Homo sapiens: one gene and its partners. The protein of the gene in region 2 interacts with the protein of the main gene of each other region in a pairwise test. Each region holds a gene or a part of one and is shown on either strand. Other genes may lie near its edges. The genes, in order: VCX2, ZNF526, ATXN7L2, PADI6, ZNF438, RBM10 and BAHD1.

Region 1 (3,149 bases), on a different chromosome or scaffold from region 2:
TGCAAAATTCCAACCTCATGTTAGAAATATTACCTAATATAGTAGATATCTACTTTATCCAAGTGAGTAATTAACTAGAGATAACTACATGAAGCCAGTACCTGGAATAAACAAATTCTTCTCAGTACTAGTTGAACAAACAACTAGCAATTACTAGGAAAACTGGTTGAACATAGAAAGTTTAGTAACCATTCGAGTCAATTCTGTATTCTTACTTTTTTAGGATTGTTGACTAGGTACTATGGATTTGGTAACTAGAGTTACCTGAGTAAGAGTTAAATACAGAATCCTCCATAAAACTGGAATAACTGGTTGAAGACAGAAGTATCACATTGCATTCTCCTCAGTATTTCTCATTTCTTGTTGGAATAATAAGTTGGTTCTGTCAATGGGTAGTGAGTACCTAGGTTATTACAAAGCAAGAAATAAGAAGAGATGACTAGAATAAATATTTGATACCAGAATGGTGAAAAAAACATTCTTTTCAAATAGAAACTCTAATTTCCTGTGTAATTAATGAGTTACAATTAGTTAGTACTGGAGATATCTATATGAGATGTGGACTTCATTTTTGGGGGGTGGTACATACTTAACAGATGAACTGCTGGGTCACATGGTAGATCTATTTTGATTTTCCAAGGAACCATTACACTGTTTTTTATAACGGCTGTACCAATTACACGTCTGTCAACAGCGTGTAACAGTGAGGTGATAGTTCATTGTGGTTTTCATTTGCATTCTCTGATTATTAACGATGTTGAGCACATTTTCATATACCTGTTGGCCAGTTGTGTGTTTTCCTTCTAGAAATGCCTATTCAAGTCCTTTGCCTATTTGTTAACCAGACTATTTATTTATTTGCTATTGAGCTGTGTGAGTTCTTTATATATTTTGGATATTAACTCATTATTAGATACATGGTTCGCAAATAGCTTCTCCCAAACCATAGCCTGCCTTTTCATTTTGTTGACTGTTGGCTGTGCAGAAGCTTTTAGTTTCCAGCCTGCTCACTTGCCCTATATATTTCAGCTTCCTAGACCCCCACATTGAGTCAATGTGTGAGCCAATTACTTAGAATAAACTGTATCATATATATAATTCATAAATACTACATGATAGTAAATATATATTTATGATATATAATATTACACACACACACACACACACACAATATCCTGTTGGTTTAGTTTCTCCTTCTCTGAGGAACCCAGCCTGATACCGAAACCCAGCCTGATACCGATACCCAGCTGAGCGAGTGTGTTTGCTGATCTTGACCTCTGGAAGCCAGTGCTTTAAACCATGAGAATGAAAAATTGTGAGGCACTATGTGGATGCTGGGAGAAGTATGTGAGATGGAAAAGTTGTTTCATGGCATCCAAGAAGTGAATGATCCTCAAGGTGTAGCAGAGGAATTTGTAGGAGAGAGGGATGATTGACGTCTTCGTATAGCCCTCCATCCATCCCAGTTAGCATGGAGGGATTTTAGATAGGTCATACAGAAACTGGGTAATGATGGCAGGTGTGGAGGAACAGAATGTACCACTGAATGGGAGGTCCGGGGGAAACATGTGGCGGAAATATCCTCCCGTGCCACGTGATCTGCCAAAATTGAACATGGGGAGTTTAGGAGGGGTGACATGTCAGTTTGGGAACTATCTTTAGGGGTGCTAACCCAAATCTCCCTTTCTCCAATTAGAGCACCCTGCCTTCCTCATTAGATGTCACCCCCCCCCCCCGCCCCCGACTTCATCCGCCATGTCCTGATGGTGCTTTGTGACGTATAAGGCCTTCCTTCCCGCCCAGGGCTACCATTGGCTGGGTAGTGGAGTGTTGACCAATCACAGCTCAGGGGCGTGATTGTCTCGTCCTGGGATCGCGAGAGGGGTATATACAGGGAGGCCAGGCAGCCTGGAGTTAGTCGACCGTTGCGAGACGTTGAGCTGCGGAAGATGAGTCCAAAGCCGAGAGCCTCGGGACCTCCGGCCAAGGCCACGGAGGCAGGAAAGAGGAAGTCCTCCTCTCAGCCGAGCCCCAGTGACCCGAAGAAGAAGGTGAGTGACCCTCCCAAGCTCCTCCTCGTCTTCCCCTCGCCTCCTTCCTCACAAGAAGCCTCTCCTGTCGTCACTTGGCAGAACCCCCCAACCCGGCCCCCACCGCTTCTGAGGACACGTCCCTGTTCCCAGCCTCCTCCATCCTCGTCCCTAAACCAGAGCCCTTCTGTGATCTCCCTGTTGTCCTTCCAGACTACCAAGGTGGCCAAGAAGGGAAAAGCAGTTCGTAGAGGGAGACGCGGGAAGAAAGGGGCTGCGACAAAGATGGCGGCCGTGACGGCACCTGAGGCGGAGAGCGCGCCAGCGGCACCCGGCCCCAGCGACCAGCCCAGCCAGGAGCTCCCTCAGCACGAGCTGCCGCCGGAGGAGCCAGTGAGCGAGGGGACCCAGCACGACCCCCTGAGTCAGGAGAGCGAGGTGGAAGAACCACTGAGTCAGGAGAGCGAGGTGGAAGAACCACTGACTGTGTGGATGGCCAGCTTTTCCCCTGTCTCCGAGAGCACCGACTAAGTTCAGGCCCAGCCGCCAGACCTCAGAGATCTCACCAGCGGGGTGCTTGCCATTCTGAAGATAATAAAATGAATGTGTTGCAAATTGATCTGAGTGACTCCGTGTTCTCTGATGGTGGGGAGGGAGGGAGGGAGGGGGGAAGAGGTGGTGTGTGGTGAGGGAGGGAGGGAGGAAGAGGTGGTGTGTGGGGAGGGAGGGAGGGAGGGAGGAAGAGGTGGTGTGTGGGGAGGGAGGGAGGGAGGAAGAGGTGGTGTGTGGGGAGGGAGGGAGGGAGGAAGAGGTGGTGTGTGGGGAGGGAGGGAGGGAGGGAGGAAGAGGTGGTGTGTGGGGAGGGAGGGAGGGAGGAAGAGGTGGTGTGTGGGGAGGGAGGGAGGAAGAGGTGGTGTGTGGGGAGGGAGGGAGGGAGGAAGAGGTGGTGTGTGGGGAGGGAGGGAGGAAGAGGTGGTGTGTGGGGAGGGAGGGAGGGAGGAAGAGGTGGTGTGTGGGGAGGGAGGGAGGGAGGAAGAGGTGGTGTGTGGGGAGGGAGGGAGGGAGGAAGAGGTGGTGTGTGGGGAGGGAGGGAGGAAGAGGTGGTGTGTGGGGAGGGAG
Region 2 (2,695 bases):
AGCGCTTCACACAGAGCTCCAACCTGCAGCAGCACCGGCGGTTGCACTTGCGGCCAGTCGCCTTTGCCCGCGCCCCCCGCCTCCCCATCACTGGTCTCTACAACAAGAGTCCCTACTACTGCGGGACTTGTGGCCGCTGGTTCCGCGCCATGGCGGGCTTGCGACTGCATCAGCGGGTCCATGCCCGAGCTCGGACTTTGACGCTACAGCCTCCCAGATCACCATCTCCTGCCCCACCCCCACCTCCAGAGCCTCAACAGACTATCATGTGCACAGAGCTGGGGGAGACCATCGCCATCATTGAGACATCCCAGCCACTGGCGCTTGAGGACACCCTGCAGCTGTGCCAGGCTGCACTGGGGGCCAGTGAAGCAGGCGGGCTCTTGCAGTTGGACACGGCCTTCGTGTGACGCAGCTGAAAAGCAACAACAAAAGGGTTTGGTTGCAACAGCCAGTGTGGGTACCTCTGGGGAGAGAGGACCTCCTCTGACAAACTGGTCTGGTACCCACCATGTGCCAGGATCCACCCTGGCCTCTTTTTACCCACTGACTCCCCAGAACAACCCTTCCAGGCTTCTCTTGTCATCTTTCTCTGCCTGAGGGGAAACTGAAGCTCTGAAATGCGATGTGATCTGTACCAGGTCACCCAGCTATGCTGCAAAGTGGGTTGGCCAAGGCCCTTTGCACTGCATCACCCTGGTGCCCAGCAACATCAGGTAACCTTCACTGAGCACCAAGCTTATGCCAGGTCTGTGCTGGCCACTCTCATATACCTCTTCAGATCCTCTGCTTGTACCCCCAGCCCTTGCCTTCCCTGGATTTTGGGCACCCAGGACTTTGCTCTGCCTGGTGGAGGGTACTTGATTTCTCTGGGCTTCCTTCATCTCAATTCTGACAGTGTGGAAGGAAATCTGTAGGTACCCAGGTCCTCAGCTCCAGACTGGGTGATGCTGGAGACCCAGGAGCAAGTCAGCACAGGCTCTGCCCACAGGAGGCATGCACAATCTGGTAGGAGAAACGCACAAGTACAGATAGCTTGCTCTCTGAGTGTGTCTCATTGATTCATTCAGCCTGTGTGTCCTAAAGCCTCCCTTCTCCCATACTGGGTGATGCTGGGGGCAGAGATGAGTCAGGCCTAAGGCTTCTCTGGGCTGTGATGGGGATGTGCAGGGACAGTGGGATCCCAGGAAACAGACCTCCATGGTGGGAGATCAGGAGTTAAGGACTTCCTAGAGAAGGTAGTCCCTGAAGGAAAAGTAGGAATCTGGCAGTGAAAGAGGAAAAGAACATTCCAGGCAGACAGCACTGCAAGAGGGTGAGCTCTTGGTGTATTTGGAGACCATCCAGTTATTCATCTGACTGCCTACCTGAGGCAAGCACCACACTTACCACTGTATGTGTACTATGATCCCAACAGGCTTGTGACATAGATTTCATATTATCCCTGTTGTATAGATTTTTAAAACTGGTGGCTGGGCGTGGTGGCTCACGCCTGTAATCCCAGCACTTTGGGAGGCCGAGGCGGGCAGATCACGAGGTCAGGAGATCGAGACCATCCTGGCTAACACGGTGAAACCCCGTCTCTACTAAAAATACAAAAAATTAGCCAGGAGTGGTGGCGGGCGCCTGTGGTGGCCAGCTACTCAGGAGGCTGAGGCAGGAGAATGGCGTGAACCCGGGAGGCGGAGCTTGCAGTGAGCCGAGATCGCGCCACTGCACTCCAGCCTGGGCGACAGAGTGAGACTCCCTCTCAAAAGAAAATAAAAATAAAAATAAACTGGCCAGGTGCGGTGGCTCACGCTTGCAATCCCAGTGCTTTGGGAGACTGAGGCAGGAGGATCACTTAAGGCCAGGAGTTCGAGACCAGCCTGGGCAACAGCAAGACCTCATCTCTACAAAACTTAAAAGTTAGCCAGGCCTGGTGGCACATGCCTGTAATCCGAGTGCTTTGGGAGGCTGAGGCAGGAGGATCACTCGAGCTCAAGAATTCAAGACCTGGGCAAGAGAGAGAGACTTTGTCTCTATTAAAAATAAAAATGATTGGCCGAGCATGGTGGTGCACACCAGTATTCCCAGCTACTCTGGAGGCTGAGGCGGAGGCAGGATTGCTTGATATGAGGGAGATTGAGGCTGCAGTGAGCTGTGTTCACACCACTGCACTCCAGTCTGGGCAACAGTGCAAGACCCTGTCACTTAAAAAAAAAAAAAAGGAAAAAAAAACTAAGGACAGAGATTTGCCCAAGGTTTCACAGCTAGGCAGAGATGTGAGATTTGAGTACGGGAGGCCCCTGCGGCCCACATTTGTAACCCATACTATTCTGAGTGATTAAGACCTGAAACTTGTGCAGGGGTAGGGGATCAGAGGAAGATTCATTCTAACTAGAGGAAAAGTAAACCAGTGTCAGAGCTATTGGGATTTGAAGGGGCTTCGAAACATCAAAGGTCTTGAGAGCAGGAAGATTCCCACCTTTTTCAGAGGTTACCTAGGATAATAGTCTTTCTCTCCATTGATTGATTGATTGATTGAGATGGAGTCTTGCTCTGTTGCCCAGGCTGGAGCACAGTGGTGCAGTCTCAGCTCACTGCAACCTCCACCTTCCAGGCTCAAGCGATTCTCCTGCCTCAGTCTCCCTAATAGCTGGGATTACAGGCCCCCACCACTGCACCCAGCTAATTTTTGTATTTTAGTAGAGAC
Region 3 (3,165 bases), on a different chromosome or scaffold from region 2:
GAAACTCAGATTCTCTCATGTGAGTCTATGGACATGGTTAGGTTGGGGAAGGAAGTGGTGATACCACTCACCTTGATTATTCTTTCCACCTCCTGGTGACAGAAAGAAGACATGGGCCCCTCAGCAAGCTTTATGGCCGGGCCCCACCCCCACCTCCAGCCCCTGCCAGCTCTCAGAAATGCCATGTAGTGAATGGGCAGGGCCCAGCTTGTAGGGCCCCAGGTTCCACGAAAACCTCCTCCAGGGAGAAGGGCCAGGGGTCCCGGAGCCGTGGCCACCAGCCTCCTGAGAAGACCCAGAAGGACAACCTCTGGTAAGGAGAGGCTGGAAACTTTCTAAGACTGGCCCTGACCCTGACCCATGGATGGGCTGACATCAATACAGACAGCCCTGGGTCAAGGCATACTCCTCACAGCAGGAGGCAGCCGTCCTGTCTGCAGCTTCCTTCCATATATTCCAGGGAAGATGGGGTCTCCTCTTCCCGTGTTTCACACCCCTGCTGGAGCCCACCCAAATTCCAGGGCTGGGAAAGAGATGGCTCTGGGCTAGAGTCCAGGCCCCAGGCCTCGCCTCCCCTCCCCTCCCTCAGCCAACCCCCTCTCTCTGTGTGTAGCCTTTTCGTGCCTGTGGTGAATCTGGAGAAGATGTCCAGTCTCCCGAAGCCTGATGGACATGGAATCAGGGTGGCCCCACCCTCTGCTTTTCTCAGCCAGCCAGGGGGCCTCACCAAGGACTCCCCTGGAAAACCTCCCATGGCTCCCCCTTCTAAAGAACCTCCTGGCAGAGAGAACATCGAGATCATCCCCAGTGAGGGGTCCAGTCACTGGGCTGAAGGCAGCCCTCCTGAAAAGGAGCCCAGTGGGACCAGGCTGCCCCCTAAAACCCACCGGAAGATGGCTCGTGAGTAGTTGTGGTCTTGGGGGTCCAGAATGTAGAGTGGGGACTCCTTTGGGCTGCTTTGTCCTTGGGCTGGATGAGGAGGAGGTCAGGTTTATGGGCCTGGCCATCACAGGTTGTAGGGTATAGGAGCCCCGTCACCTCTTGACCTGCTTGCTTCCTGGGAAGCTTCTCTCCATCCTGTGTCTCCTGATCAAGGCTGAGGGAGCCCATGCCCAGGAGGTGAAGTTCTTTCTCACTCTTTTCTCACCTAGATCCAGGGCGCCAGCCAGACACATCTCACAGCTGGCTTCTCTGGCCTCCCAGATGCCCATGGCTGCTTTTGTTTCTTGATGTGTGTTGCCCTGCTTTGGGCTTGAAGTCCCAAAAGGCGCACCTGAAATTGGGATAGGGATGGTTCTCACACCCAGCAAGGAGATGTTGATGCCCAGAAGTTTATCTGGAAGGTACAGCCCCAGGCTGAGGGCTGGAGTCTCTTCTGCCTTAGTACCAGTTCTCAGGCCCTTGGCAGGAAGCGGCCAAATCCTCCTGTAAACTCCTGGAAATGGTCTTGAGGTTCATTGGAAGTGCTTTCCCCACAGGGAAGGAGTGCGACCTCAACAGGCAGTGTGGGGTAATAAATCCAGAGACCAAAAAGATCTGTACCCGCCTGTTGACCTGCAAGGTAACCCCCTTCCCACTGCACGGTGAGGGAGGACAGCACAGGGCTTGCCCACTCCTTCCCTGGGCAAAGAGAGGAATGTCGATGTTACTGAAGGTCCAGCTTAAGGGAGGGCAGTTAGGCCCACCCAAGGGAAGGGGAGATGGGTATGCCCCTCCTGGGCAGAAGGTGGGAACAGTGGGAAGGAGGGAGTTTCCAGATTCCCCCATCCCAAAGGAGGGTTTTGGCCCCATGGGGGAATGAAACAAAGACACATGAACACAGCTGCAAATATGCCCACCTCTCTCCCTGCCCCCCAACTTGCCCGGGCCAAAGCACCCTGCCGTCCCTCACCCCTTCTCAGTTCATACCTACTCCCCAGCTCTCCACTCTGCTGTATTCTAGATCCACTCAGTACACCAGCGCCGGGAAGTCCAGGGCCGGGCCAAGGACTTTGACGTGCTGGTGGCAGAGCTGAAGGCCAACTCCCGCAAAGGGGAGTCTCCCAAGGAGAAGAGCCCAGGGCGCAAGGAGCAAGTTCTCGAGCGCCCCTCCCAGGAGCTCCCCTCCTCAGTCCAGGTTGTAGCAGCGGTGGCTGCTCCCAGCAGCACCTTCTCTGTTCGTGCCAAGCAGACCTACCCATACTGTGCACTGCCCAGGTACGTCTAGAATCCAACCCCTACCTCACCTGGGGGTACTTGGCCCCTAAGCCATCAGGGGCCCCTGGAAACAGGCTCAGGGAGTGTCCTGGAAGAGGCACTCCCTCAGCCCTGAGTGTGGGGGTATTCCTGGGGCTCCTGACAGTGGTGTGGAAGCAGGAGACTCCCCTGTTTCCAACCAGGCATACCACAGCACCCCAGCCTCTCGGCAGTGTGCCAGATCCAACACTCAGGATATGAACATTTTCCCAGCTGCCTCCAACAGACCGAAACTTGTCACTGGGGAGCTGAAAGGGTCACACTCCTGGGCAAGGCAGCCCTATGTGTATTCACTCACTGGCCCCTTCGCGTGCAGAGGCTATGCCGGACCCCAGGGAGAGCCTGACTTGCTGAAGGAGACACACATGCATCTCTGCCTGTCACACAAGGGGCAGACACGAAACACAGGCTCAGCTCACAGACAGGCTCACAGGAATATGTGATGCAAGAAGGGGGTTGAGCGAGTTGACTGGGCTGACCAGAGCTGGGTACAGTTTTAACTGTGAAGATTTTCTGGAGGAGGCGGATCTGCAGCAGATTATCCCCTGAGGAGGAAGGGGCTGGGAGGTGAAGGGGCTGGGGAGAGAATCCCTTGGGAGCAGTCTCTCTGTCTCTTACTCTGTGAGCTGTGTCGTTCCCTCCTGTCCTTCCCTTCCCTCTGTCCTCTTCTGATTGCCCTGCAGGGTGTCTGCCCTGGTGCCCTGCTCTTTGAGCTCGGCAGGTTCAAGGATGCCCCTACTCTGACCCCACAACAGTCACATTCCCCTGGCATCCCTTTTGGCCCTTCCAGGTCCCGGGCCTCCTCCGAGAGTGAATTGGATGATGAAGGCCCCTGTGGTGGTGATGGGGACCCAGGCCTGTTCCCCTTCCCCATGCCCCGGGGTGGGACCCAGGCCTCCAGCGAAGAGAGTGAGGAGGAGGGGACATCTG
Region 4 (3,500 bases), on a different chromosome or scaffold from region 2:
TATGCTAGAACAATCCACGAAGGATGGAGAGGATGACATCGTCGTCCCCAAAAGAAAGGGGTAGCTGGCATTATCTGATGGCCAGCACTTCACAGGAACTGGGATTCTTGAGGAATAGAGAAATGGCCGAGAAGTGCCAGTGAAGAACCAAGAAGGGTACCCACCTTCCTGTAAGTCCAGCAGTACATGGCAGGTAGGAAAAAGCTCAGCTCAAATCATCAGTATTTGCTCTGTGCCCTGAGGATCCAGCTCTGGAAGAATAAACCATGTTACCTGCTCTCAGAGCCTGCTACGACAGATGGACAGACAGTCGAGGACCCAGCAGAGGCTGGAGGGAGCCCTTTAATATGCCCCCAGGGTGGGTAGGGAGAGTTTGAGGTAGCTAAGGCCTCCTGGGCAGCTCTGTGAGGACTGAGGGCAGGGAGGGCCTTCCAGGTAGAGGCAGCTATTGTGTGTACTTGGGTCGCAGGGCTTCTGGCCTCCCCCATGCTTCTGTTTAATGGGGACAACAAATGCCTGCTTCAAAGGGTCCTGAGGATGTGAGCCCATGAGCCTGAAACACCTACCACAGCTCCTAGCAAAGATAGCCCACAGTGAAATGTTAGCTATGCTTCACAACAAACTATCTGTGAGAGGGGCCCCCAGAAGGTCAACCACAGGAGAGCCAGCCAGTAGGGGATTGTGGCAAACAGACTGTGACCCTCTCGCCCTCACTGCCTGGTGGTGAATCACCCTTGGGTGGAATGGCCACAGGGAGCCCAGGTCCCCAGAACAGGAGCAGGCCCTAGGTGTGTGGCACCTCTTGGGCTGCATGCCGTGGGCCTGCTGATGCTATCGCAGGTCAAGAGGGCTGTGTCTGCACTGGGAAGTTGCAGGGGTTCCTGGGGGAAGACTGCCTTGTCTGGTCTTGCCCCATGAGGCCTGGCTCAGGGCTGGTGAAGCATCTAGGTAGATGAGAAGCAGGAACTAGCACAGGAGTGGTCCCGGTGGGCCCAGTTCCCTCACAGCCAGCAGCAGGACTGAGGCTGGGCCTGTAACCAGCATCCCCAGGGCCTCCAAGGAGGGGCTGCTGCAGAACTGCAGAGTCCATCGGGAGGGCTGCTGGGGCTCTAACCCAGAGCAAGAGGCCGAGGACCCAGGGCAGTGCCTAACCAGGGGCAGCCACGGCCGCAGCTGCAGCCATCTGCTGGCACGTTGGAGGAGCTGGAGATGGAGGCAGCTGGCAGTGCCGTGCAGAAGGTCTGAGGATGCTACAGTTCCTGGATCTCTTGGGGTTCTAGTGGCCAAGGTAAATCTAGCTTAGGATCCCCTGAAATAAGTCACCTGGAATCTTGAGCAGGAACAGCCATCAGGCCTACAGCTGCCACATCGGGCACAGATAGAGGACAGGCCAGGAAAGAGGAAGTTCGAGTGACCCAGGTGGGAGAAGTCAGGGTCATTTCTGACCTAGAAAATGAATGGACTTGGGCTGGGCACAGTGGCTCACGACTGTAATCCTAGCACTTTGGGAGGCTGAGGCAGATGGATTGCCTGAGCTCAGGAGTTGGAGACTGGCCTGGGCAATGTGGTAAAACCCCATCTCTACTAAAAATACAAAAAACTAGCCGGGCATGGTGGTGCACACCTATAGTCCTAGCTACTCAGGAAGCTGAGGTACAAGAATTGCTTGAACCCAGGAGATGGAGGTTGAAGTGAGCCGAGATAGTGCCGCTACACTCTAGCCTGCTCAACAGAGCAGGACTCCACCTCAAAAAAGAAAAGGAGGGGGGGGGGCCAGGCGTGGTAGCTCACACCTGTAATCCCAGCACTTTGGGAGGTCCGAGGTAGGCAGATCACGAGGTCAGGAGATCAAGACCATCCTGTCTAACGAGACGGTGAAATCCCGTCTCTACTAAAAATACAAAAAATTAGCCAGGCGTGTGGTGGTAGGTGCCTGCAGTTCCAGCTACTCAGGAAGCTGAGGCAGAATGGCCAGAATCCAGGAGGCAAAGCTTACAGTGAGCTGAGATCACGCCACTACACTCCAGCCTGGGCGACAGAGCAAGACTCCCTCTCAAAAACACCTTTAGGATCTAATTAGCAAACGGACAACCACCACGTGTGGTCAACTTCCTTCTGATCTCTTCTGTGCATGGTTTTGTATTTAATGACCTAAAACTAGGAGACAGGCTTAACATGTATAATCATAAGAACACTTGGTTTCTTCAGAAAACTTGATGGAGGCATAATCCATCCAATAAATGGTTCTCACTGACCTTTCTAGCATCAGTAAGTGATTTTTTTCAGATGAGGCTGCTGAGCCCAGCCTGGGACAGTTTCTCACCTTTAGGACTCTGATATTATCGCAGGAGTTGGATTCATGGGCCAAAATGTAGAACCACCTACCCTGAGGCTTCACACCAGTCAGGAGCCTTGAAGGCATCATCACCTGAGCTCCAACTCCTGGCATGTAATAGGTCTTCAAGGAATACTGGTGAATAACTGGCCATTGCTTGTGTATGAACATCTGGTTGTCTACCAAGACCTGAATGCTAGAAACGGGGATGGCTGAGCCATTTCAGCTCCAGCCCTCCTGGAACTCACAGCCTTGCATCTGATATGAGGAATGAGCTGGTACCTTGACCATCAAATGTGACCGGCACCAGGTTACTTCAGTGGCTGGTCCATCCCTTCTTTCTCTCCTAGAAGACAACTCCAGTACCTTTGAGTTGGTGCTGGGGCCCGACCAGCACGCCTATACCTTGGCCCTCCTCGGGAACCACTTGAAGGAGACTTTCTACGTTGAAGCTATAGCATTCCCATCTGCCGAATTCTCAGGCCTCATCTCCTACTCTGTGTCCCTGGTGGAGGAGTCTCAAGACCCGGTATGTCCCCATAATAGATGGGTCCTCAGACTAGGATGCTCCGGTGGGGGAAAAGCCATCTCCCACAGTTGGGCAGAGCTTGAGGTTTGCTGGGGGAGAGCTGCAGAAGGCAAGTGGGGCCCAGCTGGGGGCCGGACTGAACGGCCGGAACCCTGGGGTAAGAGGGGAGCGAGTAAATGTGGAAGCAGGTTGCTAACAGGACCTTGTCTTGTTGCAGTCAATTCCAGAGACTGTGCTGTACAAAGACACGGTGGTGTTCCGGGTGGCTCCCTGTGTCTTCATTCCCTGTACCCAGGTGCCTCTGGAGGTTTACCTGTGCAGGTGAGAGACCATCAGGCTGACTGTGCCAGGCGGTTCTCATAACTGGCACCCTCTTCTTTCTATATGCAGGGCAGGGTGGGTGAAGATGACTAGGACCTCTCACCAGGAGAGTTGAAACCCTTCTGTCTGAGCTGTCTGGACCTGCCCCAAGACAGTCCAATACATGCCTGAATATTCCCAAAGATGGGCATGGAACAGTGAATGAGACAGTCCCCCCATTATGTGAGGGCCAAACGGCATGGTTTTAAACAGTACCAAGTGCTCTAAAGCAGGGTGAAGATGGAGAGGTCAGGATGAGAACCTGTCCCAGGGACG
Region 5 (3,500 bases), on a different chromosome or scaffold from region 2:
CCAATTGAGAGCAATCATTGAAGTTGATCGTCTTACAGCTAAGTGAGAAGCTGCCAAAGAACTCAACATTGACCATTCTACGGTCGTTTGGCATTTGAAGCAAATTGGAAAGTTGAAAAAGCTCAATAAATGGGTGCCTCAGGACCTGAAGGAAAATTTTTTAAAATTGTCATTTTGAAGTGCCATCTTATACTACACAACAATAATGAACCATTTCTCAATCGGATTGTGACGTGTGACAAAAAGTGGATTTTATACGACAACTGGCAACGACCAGCTCAGTGGCTGGACCCAGAAGCTCCAAAGCACTTCCCAAAACCAAACTTGCACCAAAAAAAGGTCATAGTCACTGTTTGGTGGCCTGCTGCCGCTCTGATCCACTACAGCTTTCTTCCTTTTTTTTTTCTTTTTTTTGAGACGGAGTCTCACTCTGTCACCCAGGCTGGAATGCAGTGGTACAATCTCAACTCACTGCAACCTCTGCCTCCGAGGTTCAAGCAATTCTCCTGCCTCAGCCTCTCAAGTAGCTGGAACTACAGGTGCACACCACCATGCCTGGCCAATTTTGTATTTTTAGTAGAGACAGGGTTTCGCAATGTTGGCCAGGCTGGTCTCGAACTCCTGACCTCAGGTGATCCACCCACCTCGGCCTCCCAAAGTGCTGGGATTACAGGCGTGAGCCACCACACCTGGCCCACTACAGCTTTCTGAATCCTGGTGAAACCATTACATCTGAGAAGTACACTCAGCAAATCAATGAGATGCACTGAAAACTGCAACACCTGCAGCCAGCGTTGGTCAACAGAAAGGGCCCAATTCTTCTTCATGACAATGCCCAACCGCACGACACACAACAAACGCTTCGAAAGCTGAATGCATTGAGCTATGAAGTTTGCCTCATCCGCCATATTCACCTGACCTCTTGTCAACCACCACTTCTTCAAGCATCTCGACAACTATTTGAAAGGAAAATGCTTCCAAAACCAGCAGGTTTTTGGAAAGCAGAAAATGCTTTCCAAATCCCAAAGCATGAATTTTTAAGCTACAGGAATGAACAAACTTATTTCTCATTGGCAAAAATGTGTTGATTATAATGCTTCCTGCTCTGATTAATAAAGACGTGTCTGAGCCGACTTATAATGATTTAAAATTCACGGTCCAAAACCGCAATTACTTTTGCACCAACCTAATACTTTATATAAATGGTACTATGATCTAATAATTATAGTAACATGATTTGCAAATACTAAAATATTTTGCTTGCCTTGTTCTATAAAATATATGTAATATAATCACTAATCTTTCATAATGTTGATCAGAATACTTTCCAAGTAACATTCAAAAAGTAATCACTTCTAGATGTATCTCTAATAACAGCAAAAACAACAGACTTCTAGATCTATAATTCGGCATCTATCAAGACTAATTGTGGCAGGCACATAATATAACACACTCCCAAAAGAGAAAAAAAATAGACATAACCTTCACCATAGACAGCACAGCCTTCACCATAATTTTTAAAGCATTAATATATTTCCACAAATAATATATTACCTCTTGAACTACATATAAAAATAATCCTTGAGGCAGCCTGGGTTCCAAATATATTGTCCTGAAATTGATAGACAGAAAACAAGTGATATTTGTACATCCATTTTTCTTTTAAGTTTCAGAAGAAAAGCAAAATCAAAAGTATGTTATATTAGCGCCATAGCTAACATCAACATGTTTGACATAAAAAGTACGTATTCTTCAACTTCAAGAAAGGAAAAGATTGTTCTTTGGCTCTAGTCCTAAGCTGGAAACAAGTAACCACAAAACCAGTTTTAAATCTACCCCAGTCAATCCATCCTTAAAGTCTACTCAACCTTTCCACTTAAGCACTTTGCCAACAAAGTAAGCCAATCAGCAACTGCCCCGCTTCAGTACCTTTGCTCCTCAAAGCCGGTCAGTCTCTAAACTCTAAGTTTAAAGCTGGCTAATCCTTAAATTTTTGCACTTTTCAAAATCAGCCAATCTCAAACTCTGTGCTTCCTCAAAACCCTACATAAAAACGTCTCTGCCTGTTTAAAGGACTGTCTTCTGCAAGCACGGTTCTCCCCTACCCAGCAAGTATGGTTTACCAAAACTCAGGTAAGTTTCTACTTAAGTCAAATTAGAATAGGCTTACAAACACTGAATTACCAATGATTCAAGTGGCAACATGAGTTTCAAGAAACCTAATTAAGTTAGGCAAAGATTCTGTGAATTTATCCAGAAATTGTCAGATTTATTTATTGGAGAATATCTGAAGACACAGAATAGCTCAGTGGAAACAGCCAAACTACATTATGAGTTGGGTGGCACTGAATAGGTTATTTAATATCTCTAAACCAACTTCTTTTTCTATAAAATGAGAGTAATAACTCTATTTCACAGTATTGTCAAGAAGATTAAATGGGATAACAATAACTGGTAACTTTAAAAGATTCCTAGGTACGGCCGAGCGCAGTGGCTTACGCCTGTAATCCTAGCACTTCGGGAGGTGAAGGCGGGCGGATCACGAGGTCAGGAGATCGAGACCATCCTGGCTAACACGGTGAAAACCCGCCTCTACTAAAAAAATACAAAAAATTAGCCGGGCTTGGTGGCGGGTGCCTGCAGTCCTAGCTACTAGGGAGGCTGAGGCAAGAGAATGGCGTGAACCCGGGAGGCGGAGCTTGCAGTGAGCCAAGATCGCGCCACTGCGCTCCAGCCTGAGCGACAGAGCGAGACTCTGTCTCAAAAAAAAAAAAAGATTCCTAGGTATAAAGTTCTAGATTTGCTTTCATCACTAACTTATTAACACATATGGAAAGTCATTTAACCTAAGTCTGTTTCTTCATTGGTCTAATAGTGAGGATAATGCATGCCCTACACATTTTATGGGCTGTTTGTAACAATCAAAAATGAAAATTAATGTGAAAAGGATTTTGACAGATATAAACCATGAAACTGTGAAATAGCTAATTTAACATATACAACAATAAAGGGAATTCACACTAGGAAACCTGTTACAATCCAGGATTATATAAAGTCCAGATTAAATTAATTTTAGTAAGAAAAATATTCATAGCCAAAAACAAATACAAAACCACTAGACACACTAGCAACCAAAAAAATTCAAGGCTACTATTATTAGCTCCAAGAATTATTTCCCATTCAGTAAATGAACCAAATTAGCTCAGCTATCCAACAAACTAAAAGCAGTACAACACAATCCTTTGTCCAAGTCAGGCATTTGCCACTTAAAACTACCACCTCCATTTCTAAAGCAAAAAAATAAAAAAATAAAAAAGGAGGAACAGAAGGAAGGAGGGAGTGAAGGAAGAAAAGATATTACAGAATTTCTCAACATCAGGAGTACTGACATTTTGAACTGGATAATTTTCTGTTGTTGAGAAGTTGTCTTGTACATTGTGGGACATTCAGTGACATGCTATAATGGCCTCAATCCACTAGATGCTAGGAGTAATGTCCCC
Region 6 (3,500 bases), on a different chromosome or scaffold from region 2:
GCGGGTTATCCCCTTGCCAAGGGCAAGAATTGCATCCCAGGTTTCCTTACTTCGTGGCTGCCAGCGAGCCCTTTGTCAGATCACCCTGCCCACCGTTCTTAAGTGGCTGGCTCACTTGCTCTCTTGTTCTCTGTGCCCCTGAGGGTCGTCCTGCTGCCATGCTTTACCTTGCTCTGTGCCCATTTCTTCATTTGATTCACTTTCTGCAAGTCTGGGGCTGAAAGTCAAGACTGTGAACTGGTGTGGGCCTGGGGCTGTTGTCACTCAGGGAAAAGCTGCGAAAGAGGCGGAGGAGACTGTGTGCACATCACCGATGACCCCTCGGGATCCAGAGGCCTCCAGCCAGCCTCAGGTACCCAGCGGCCCCATTGTGCTGAGCCTGCCCTACTCTGTATCTCCCCGTATAGATCCGTGGCCAGCTGCAGTCGCACGGCGTGCAAGCACGGGAGGTTCGGCTGATGCGGAACAAATCTTCAGGTGAGCTTTTGTTCTAGTGCCCTCCCCTTCAAGTGGCCAGCCTCAGCCTCCGAATCTCCCTCCTGCCTCTGCCTTCTCCCCCACTCCCTCCACCACCTTCCTGCCACAGCTGGGAATGGGCAGCGTGGGGGGTGCCCTCTCTTCTCTCCCACTCCCCACACTCTCCTCACAGCTCCAGCCAAAAGCCTCTTCAATGGGGCTGTCGGGGCAGGGGTGCAGCTCTGAGCTGAGCTGGGTGCTCCCTGGGGTCAGGGCCAGGGCCAGGCTCCCAGGCACCTCCTCTCTGGGACTCTGAGTATCTGAGATGGTAACCCCCTCCCATACACTCCCTTCCCTCTCCTTTCTTCTCCTTCCTCTGCCCCTCACTTTCCCCCACATTTTTTGGTAACAGCCTCTGACCAGAAAGTAGCTCTGACGTGGTGGTCCCACATGTGTGTCCCAAGGGGGAAGCAGGGGATGGCTCTTATCCAAGGACACATCCCAAGGAACAGCCAGGACTTCCTGGCCTCGCCTGTTCCCTCCCTCCCTCCCTCTTGCAGGCTGCTTGGAGCTGGCCTGAGGTTAGCAGGGTGGTGGTGGGGGGAGTTGTCTCTACAGGACCTCTGCCCAGGCTCCCCAAGGCAGGCACAGTGGGGCCTCACTCTGCCTGGGCTTCTCTCTCCATCTCTCAGTCTCTCCTCCCCACACCTCCATCTCTCTCTCTCTCTCTCTCTCTCTCTCTCTCTCTCTCTCTCTCTTTCTCCCTCTCTCTCTTTCTCTCTCTCTGCCCCCCCCAACTATATTATTCATTCCATCCTCCTATGCATCCTAACGGTTATTCTTTTGAACATTAAGCATGCCCCCCCAAGCCCCTCTCATCCAAGCCCTCCCCATGTATCTGCCTCTAAAGGACATGCTATCCTGAGGCCTCAACCCTGAATCCCTTTCCCAAGCCTGGAATCTTGGTTGCATGTAGGTCTTGCTCTGCATCACCCCAACTACACCACACACGGACAGCTTCTGGGTCTCTCTCTCCACAAGGAGGTGTTCCAGGTGCGGCCTTCTCAATGGCCCTGGGCGCTTCTCCCAGGCACCCATTGATTCTTACCTCTAAGGTCCTCCTGGCCAATCCTGGCCACCATTCTCCTTTTGTCCAGGGGAACCTGGACTGTTTGTGGCTGTAGTCTCCACCCTGTGGCCCTGAGGTGGCTCCCTAGCGAGGCCCGCCTCCCCTGCGCTGCGGTGAGGCTGAGATGAGGTCGTGTCTTTAACCGCCCCTGGTTTCCAATGGGCCAAGAGCCTTCCTAGCCTCGCAGAGCAGCCTGGCCCAGCTTCTCTTTTGCTCCTGTGATTCAACACCTGTTACAGGACCCCTCCTGGGCACCCCTGGCCTTGAGCTGGGCCCGCCCTGGAGTTACGTATTGTGGCTTGTGTGGAGCCAGCAGCCTGCCCACCATCCCCTCCCTCCTTCTTTGGAGGCAGATCTCTCGTATTCTTTCCCTCCCAGCTGCTTCTCTCCGTCTCTGTCACCCCAGGCTGGCTGGGCAGGTCTGCCCGAGCCCCATCTCTCTCTTCCCAGTTGGTGTGTGTGTCTCTCCCCCTACCGACCTCTGGCCTCTGTTTTTCTCCCTCCACCTTCCCTGCCCCACCTGGCCATCTACCTTGCCCCCCACGCCCGCTAGTCTTTCTCTCTCTGATTGCCTCTTTCTCTTTCTTCCTTTTTCCTCTTCCCCTTTCCCTCTCTGCCCCCCGTCCTCTCCCCTCGGGTCCCGCCCCCGGGAACGCCGTGTGTCCAAAGCTGTTGACTAACCCACTGCGTCTGTATCTGAATGCTGTCTCCAGGTCAGAGCCGGGGCTTCGCCTTCGTCGAGTTTAGTCACTTGCAGGACGCTACACGATGGATGGAAGCCAATCAGGTTGCTTTGCCGCACTTGAACCCCCCCCCAAACAAATACTACTTTGTAATCGAGCGCTCCCCATCGCCTGATTCTTATGGACACAGTTCCCTGCCCTGTGGCCCTGTGTCCCATCCCCCCGCCCCCTCTCTCCCCTTCCTGACCCTCACTATCTCCTCTTCCCATCTCTCGCTACCCCACTGGGCTTCTCATCCAGAGCCCACACTCACCACTGGCCCCTTCCTACCACCAGGCACTAGTGCTGCCCCTTCACCTCTCCCAGCTGAGCGTTCAGAGAAAGAGCTGCCAGGGTGGGTTCTTTCACCTAGCTTCCCACTCCCCCGGGGCTGGTGGGGGGGGCACCCCTCTCTGGGGTTAGCCAGAGCCAGGACCTCATTCCACCCTCAGGACCACTGGAAGTCCTGCCAGTGAGGAGCTTAGCTATTGGCACAGTCACTAGCAAGACTCATTTTGTCAGCCCCATCCCTGCATGTGAATTTGGCCCTTTGATTTTCATGCAAGGGGACAGCACTGCTCTGTTGATCTCAAGTTCCCGTCGAGTATGATAGTTTTATCGACACCCTGGCCTCACTTCGCCGCCCCTACCCTTCCTATCACATCTCCACACTCGCAGGAGGCACCACCTCAGGCAGCTCTGTCTTCTCGGCAAGGACCTGTGCACAGTCAGCCCTGGGGGGAGCCTGTCCCCCAAGCCTGGCACGGGATCCCAACTCAGCAGCTTTGGGACCTCCGAGACCCAAAGATCTGCCTGGTCACCCACCCCTGCCCAGATCCCTGGTGTAGGGCACTGGAGAGCAGTTTCAGGGGAGGAAGGGGCAGAGGTGGTAGAATGGGGGATCCCGGCAGAGGCAGCCCTGGGGCCGTCTCCTCGGGGTTGGTAGGCTAGTGCCATGGGCCCAGGACCCAGCCATCCATGGGAAGACGGCCTCATGGCAGAAACTTCCATCTGTTCGAAATGGCTCTTTCTTTTTCCCCTTCTCCAGCACTAGCGCACCTGCGCTCTCTTTCTCTTTTTCTCCCCTCTCCCTCCCCCTCCCTGTCTCCCCTCACCCCCCAAGTGTAGCCTGTGTAGTCCTGGCCCTGGGTGTGGCCTGGCAGTGTCAGGGCCGAGTGGGGGTTTCTCCCCAC
Region 7 (3,500 bases), on a different chromosome or scaffold from region 2:
CATGGTGAAACCCTATCTCTACTAAACATACAAAAAAATTAGCTGGGTGTGGTGATGGGCACCTGTAATCCCAGCTACTCAGGAGGCTGAGGCAGGAGAAATGCTTGAACCCGAGAGGCGGAGGTTGCAGTGAGCCAAGATAGCACCACTGCACTCTAGCCTGGGCAACAGAGCGAGACTCTGTCTCAAAAAAAAAAAAAGTTCGGAGTTAAAAAGGATGTTCCAACCACCTCTCTTTCAGACTAAAAGGGGAGATGGCCAATCTCCAAGATCAGGAAACACCCCTGTCCCCTTAGAGAGTCACTCTGACAGTCCACCATAAAAAGGCCTCTGATCCCATCGGCCACCTCAGTGGCCTTTGGTTGCACAGTTAGAATTAAGACAGGAGCAGGCTCTGAAAGCAGATGGGTGATGGGGGTCACTGCTTGTCCTGTCCTGACCACTCTCTCCCTTTCCTAGAAGGCTGCAGATCCCTGGGCCAGTTGGAATTTCCTCTCCCGGAAGCTGGCCACCCAGCCTCACCCGCCCACCCACTCCTGGGGTGCCCTGTACCCAGTGTGCCACCTGCAGCAGAGCCCGTCCCCCATCTTCAGACACCCACCTCGGAGCCCCAGACAGTAGCCCGTGCGTGCCCTCAGAGCGCCAAACCTCCCAGCGGTTCTAAGTCAGGTCTGCGCACAGGCTCCAGCTGCAGGCACACTGCAAGGAGCAAGGCTGCCCGCAGGCCTAGCCACCCCAAGCAGCCACGTGTCCAGCGCCCACGCCCTCGCCGCCGCCGTCGCCGCCGCACTAATGGCTGGGTACCTGTTGGGGCTGCGTGTGAGAAGGCTGTGTATGTCTTGGTAAGTGCTAGCTCTTAGCTGATGACGAGAGGGAGGGAGGCAGTGGGGACACATGACCTGCAGTGAGGTAGGTGCTAGAAGCACCTGGTTCTAGCTACTCTGAGAGCTGACAAGGGACTCCAGTTTACTTGTACCCCAGGAACCAGTCATGCTGGCCCACCCAGCTTGCTTCCCTAGCCCCCTACTGATCCTGTACCAGACACCCCAGGGAGGTCAGGAGACACACAGTCATAGCTGGTGGCTGCCATCTCGGTGAGTGTCTTCCCCTCCCCTCCCTGCTCACTTTGTCCCTTACACCCTGGATTGTAAAGTGGAGGACTTTCAATGGAGAACTTTTCTGGATAAGTCTATATAGGGGGCGTTGGAATGGGCAGAGAAAATTAGTGACACAGAGAACATCTCGGATGATGAAAAGAGGCCAAGTGCGGTGGCTCACATCTGTAATCCCAGTACTTTAGGTGGTGGAAGTGGTAAGATCGCATGAGGCCAGGAGTTCAAGACGAGCCTGAGCAATATAGACCTCATCTCTACAAAGTAAAAACATTAGTTAGCCAGGCATGGTGGTGTGCACCAGGAGGCTGAAGTGGGAGGATTGCTTAGGTCCAGGAGTTCAAGGCTGCAGTGAGCTGATTGCACCACTGCACTCCAGTCTGGGTGACAGAGAGACCCTGGCTTTTAAAATTAATTAATTAAAAACAAAAAGAATATTAACTAAAATTTATTGAGGCTGGGCAAGGTGGCTCATGCATATAATCCCAGAGCTTTCAGAGGCTGATGCTAGAGGATTGTTTGAGCTCAGGAGTTCAAGACCAACCTGGTCGACATAGCAAGATCCTGTCTACAGAAAAAAAATTTTTTTAATTAGCCAGGCATGGTAGCATGCATCTGTAGTCCCAGCTACTTGAGAGTCTGAGGCAGGAGGATCACTTGAGTCCAGGAGGTTGAGGCTGCAGTGAACTATGGTTGCACCACTGCATTCCAGCCTGGGTGACAGAGTGAGACCCTGTCTCTAAAAATAAATAAATACATAAATACATAAAATTTATTGAGCACTTCTTAGATGCCAGAACTGAGCTAAGCATTTTGTAAGTATTATGCCCTTTAATCCTCACCACTACCCTATGTGGTATATATCCCATCTTCCTATAATTAATCCCATTTTACAGATGTGGAAGCTGAGGCTTAGCAATACTTTAAATAATTTGTCAAAGGCTGTGCCCCTTATAACAGTGGTTTAAGGGTTCAGACCGAGACTTGTTCCATTAGGAAGCATGAGCACTTACCCAGCACTGGGGGTCTTGGAGTGAGAGTCAGCTGTCGGGTATGGTGGTCAGAGCTCAGCCCCAGAAGCTTCAGGCCACTTTTCCACCCCTATTCCCTTTTCTCATCCTTTCTCCAACCATGAGAATTCCCCAGCCCCATCCAAAAAAGGATAGTGGTTTGACAAAACCAAGGTAGTGGTTTGACTATCTTGAGGAAATCGTGGAAAGGATGTCATTCCCTCTCTCTGTCCTTACTCTGAGTGTGGCTCTGCAAGCCTATTTGTGTCATTGGTTTGTTGCCTAGGATGAGCCGGAGCCAGCCATCCGAAAGAGCTACCAGGCGGTAGAGCGGCATGGGGAGACAATCCGAGTCCGGGACACCGTCCTTCTCAAATCAGGCCCACGAAAGACCTCCACACCTTATGTGGCCAAGATCTCTGCCCTCTGGGAGAACCCCGAGTCAGGTACCTCTCCCTCTGGCTGGGGACCCAAGGGGCAGCTGCCTTCAGCAGAACTGTAGTCCCCAGATTGGCCCCTGCCTGGAGTTTGACCTGGCGTGAGTCTCCCCGTGTTCCTGGCACAGAGTCTGCCTTCCACTCGGCTGGGGTCTCTCTGCTGCCGAGGGCTGTGGGTGACCTTGTGGCTTGGGTTGGATCAGCTCATTAACCTTTCCAGCCAGCAGAGCCTGGGCACCTGTCCCCCCACCTCACCTGTCAGTGCCTTCTCCCCCTTCTCCCTCCATGCCTAACAGCATTCCAGGCCTCTGAATGCTTGGCCTGGGGCAGGGGACATGGGTTGCCGGAGCCTGCAGGATTGAGGTTGGATGAACCTCCAGGGCAGCCAGCCAGCCTCTCTGCCTGTCTAAGTAACTCAGGTTGCCAGTTCAAGCCATAACCACTGTGTTGTCCTTCCAGGAGAGCTGATGATGAGCCTCCTGTGGTATTACAGACCTGAGCACTTACAGGGAGGCCGCAGTCCCAGCATGCACGAGGTGAGCTGCCTGGCAGATGGGTCAGGGAGGGCAGGAGAGACAGAGGGAAAGGTTATGGCACTAAGACGTGGTAGGGGGAGGGCAGCCATGGGCTGTAGTCAAATCCCTGCGCTTGTCACTTTGGACTCCAGAGAACCTGGGAAAGGGCCCAGGATTTATTCTCTTTTCCCAACACTGCCCCAATTCATGTTTCAAAGGGAATAATAACCTTTGTCTTAAAAAGAGGAACAGAAAGGGAACCCTTGAGGTAGCAGGTGCCAATGGGAGCAAGTGGATGTGTTCCCCTGGAAACAGGAAAGGTGAGGTGGAGCTGCATACCTGGTCACTTTTGGTATTTTCTGTAGTAGGGGAGGGGAGGGGAGGAAAGACTCCTCCTAACACCCCATAGGCTCTCCACCAAGCTGT

The links.
Region 1: the proteins of ZNF526 (region 2) and VCX2 interact in a two-hybrid assay, tested with the Homo sapiens proteins (one large-scale study listed by BioGRID).
Region 3: the proteins of ZNF526 (region 2) and ATXN7L2 interact in a two-hybrid assay, tested with the Homo sapiens proteins (one large-scale study listed by BioGRID).
Region 4: the proteins of ZNF526 (region 2) and PADI6 interact in binary tests that used the Homo sapiens proteins (3 or more experiments, as listed by UniProt).
Region 5: the proteins of ZNF526 (region 2) and ZNF438 interact in binary tests that used the Homo sapiens proteins (3 or more experiments, as listed by UniProt).
Region 6: the proteins of ZNF526 (region 2) and RBM10 interact in binary tests that used the Homo sapiens proteins (3 or more experiments, as listed by UniProt).
Region 7: the proteins of ZNF526 (region 2) and BAHD1 interact in binary tests that used the Homo sapiens proteins (3 or more experiments, as listed by UniProt).

The regions. Positions count from the first base shown.
Region 1 is NC_000023.11:8,169,444-8,172,592, reverse strand, and holds VCX2 (variable charge X-linked protein 2), read left to right. Parts: upstream 1-1,325; 5' UTR 1,326-1,486; intron 1,487-1,803; 5' UTR 1,804-1,949; coding exon 1,950-2,051; intron 2,052-2,243; coding exon 2,244-2,561; 3' UTR 2,562-2,649; downstream 2,650-3,149.
Region 2 is NC_000019.10:42,226,007-42,228,701, forward strand, and holds the end of ZNF526 (zinc finger protein 526), read left to right. Parts: coding exon 1-410; 3' UTR 411-2,195; downstream 2,196-2,695. UniProt on the Homo sapiens protein: May be involved in transcriptional regulation.
Region 3 is NC_000001.11:109,486,905-109,490,069, forward strand, and holds part of ATXN7L2 (ataxin-7-like protein 2), read left to right. Parts: intron 1-102; coding exon 103-313; intron 314-613; coding exon 614-900; intron 901-1,478; coding exon 1,479-1,561; intron 1,562-1,942; coding exon 1,943-2,196; intron 2,197-2,378; coding exon of another isoform or gene 2,379-2,436; exon of another isoform or gene 2,437-3,025; coding exon 3,026-3,165.
Region 4 is NC_000001.11:17,385,696-17,389,195, forward strand, and holds part of PADI6 (inactive protein-arginine deiminase type-6), read left to right. Parts: intron 1-2,685; coding exon 2,686-2,864; intron 2,865-3,081; coding exon 3,082-3,185; intron 3,186-3,500. UniProt on the Homo sapiens protein: Structural constituent of cytoplasmic lattices, which plays a key role in early embryonic development. Cytoplasmic lattices consist in fibrous structures found in the cytoplasm of oocytes and preimplantation embryos.
Region 5 is NC_000010.11:31,021,866-31,025,365, forward strand, and holds part of ZNF438 (zinc finger protein 438), read right to left. Parts: intron 2,539-3,500; exon of another isoform or gene 1,555-2,538; intron 1-1,554. UniProt on the Homo sapiens protein: Isoform 1 acts as a transcriptional repressor.
Region 6 is NC_000023.11:47,172,721-47,176,220, forward strand, and holds part of RBM10 (RNA-binding protein 10), read left to right. Parts: intron 1-407; coding exon 408-477; intron 478-2,298; coding exon 2,299-2,372; intron 2,373-3,500. UniProt on the Homo sapiens protein: Binds to ssRNA containing the consensus sequence 5'-AGGUAA-3'. May be involved in post-transcriptional processing, most probably in mRNA splicing. Binds to RNA homopolymers, with a preference for poly(G) and poly(U) and little for poly(A).
Region 7 is NC_000015.10:40,461,453-40,464,952, forward strand, and holds part of BAHD1 (bromo adjacent homology domain-containing 1 protein), read left to right. Parts: intron 1-459; coding exon 460-842; intron 843-2,408; coding exon 2,409-2,568; intron 2,569-3,018; coding exon 3,019-3,095; intron 3,096-3,500.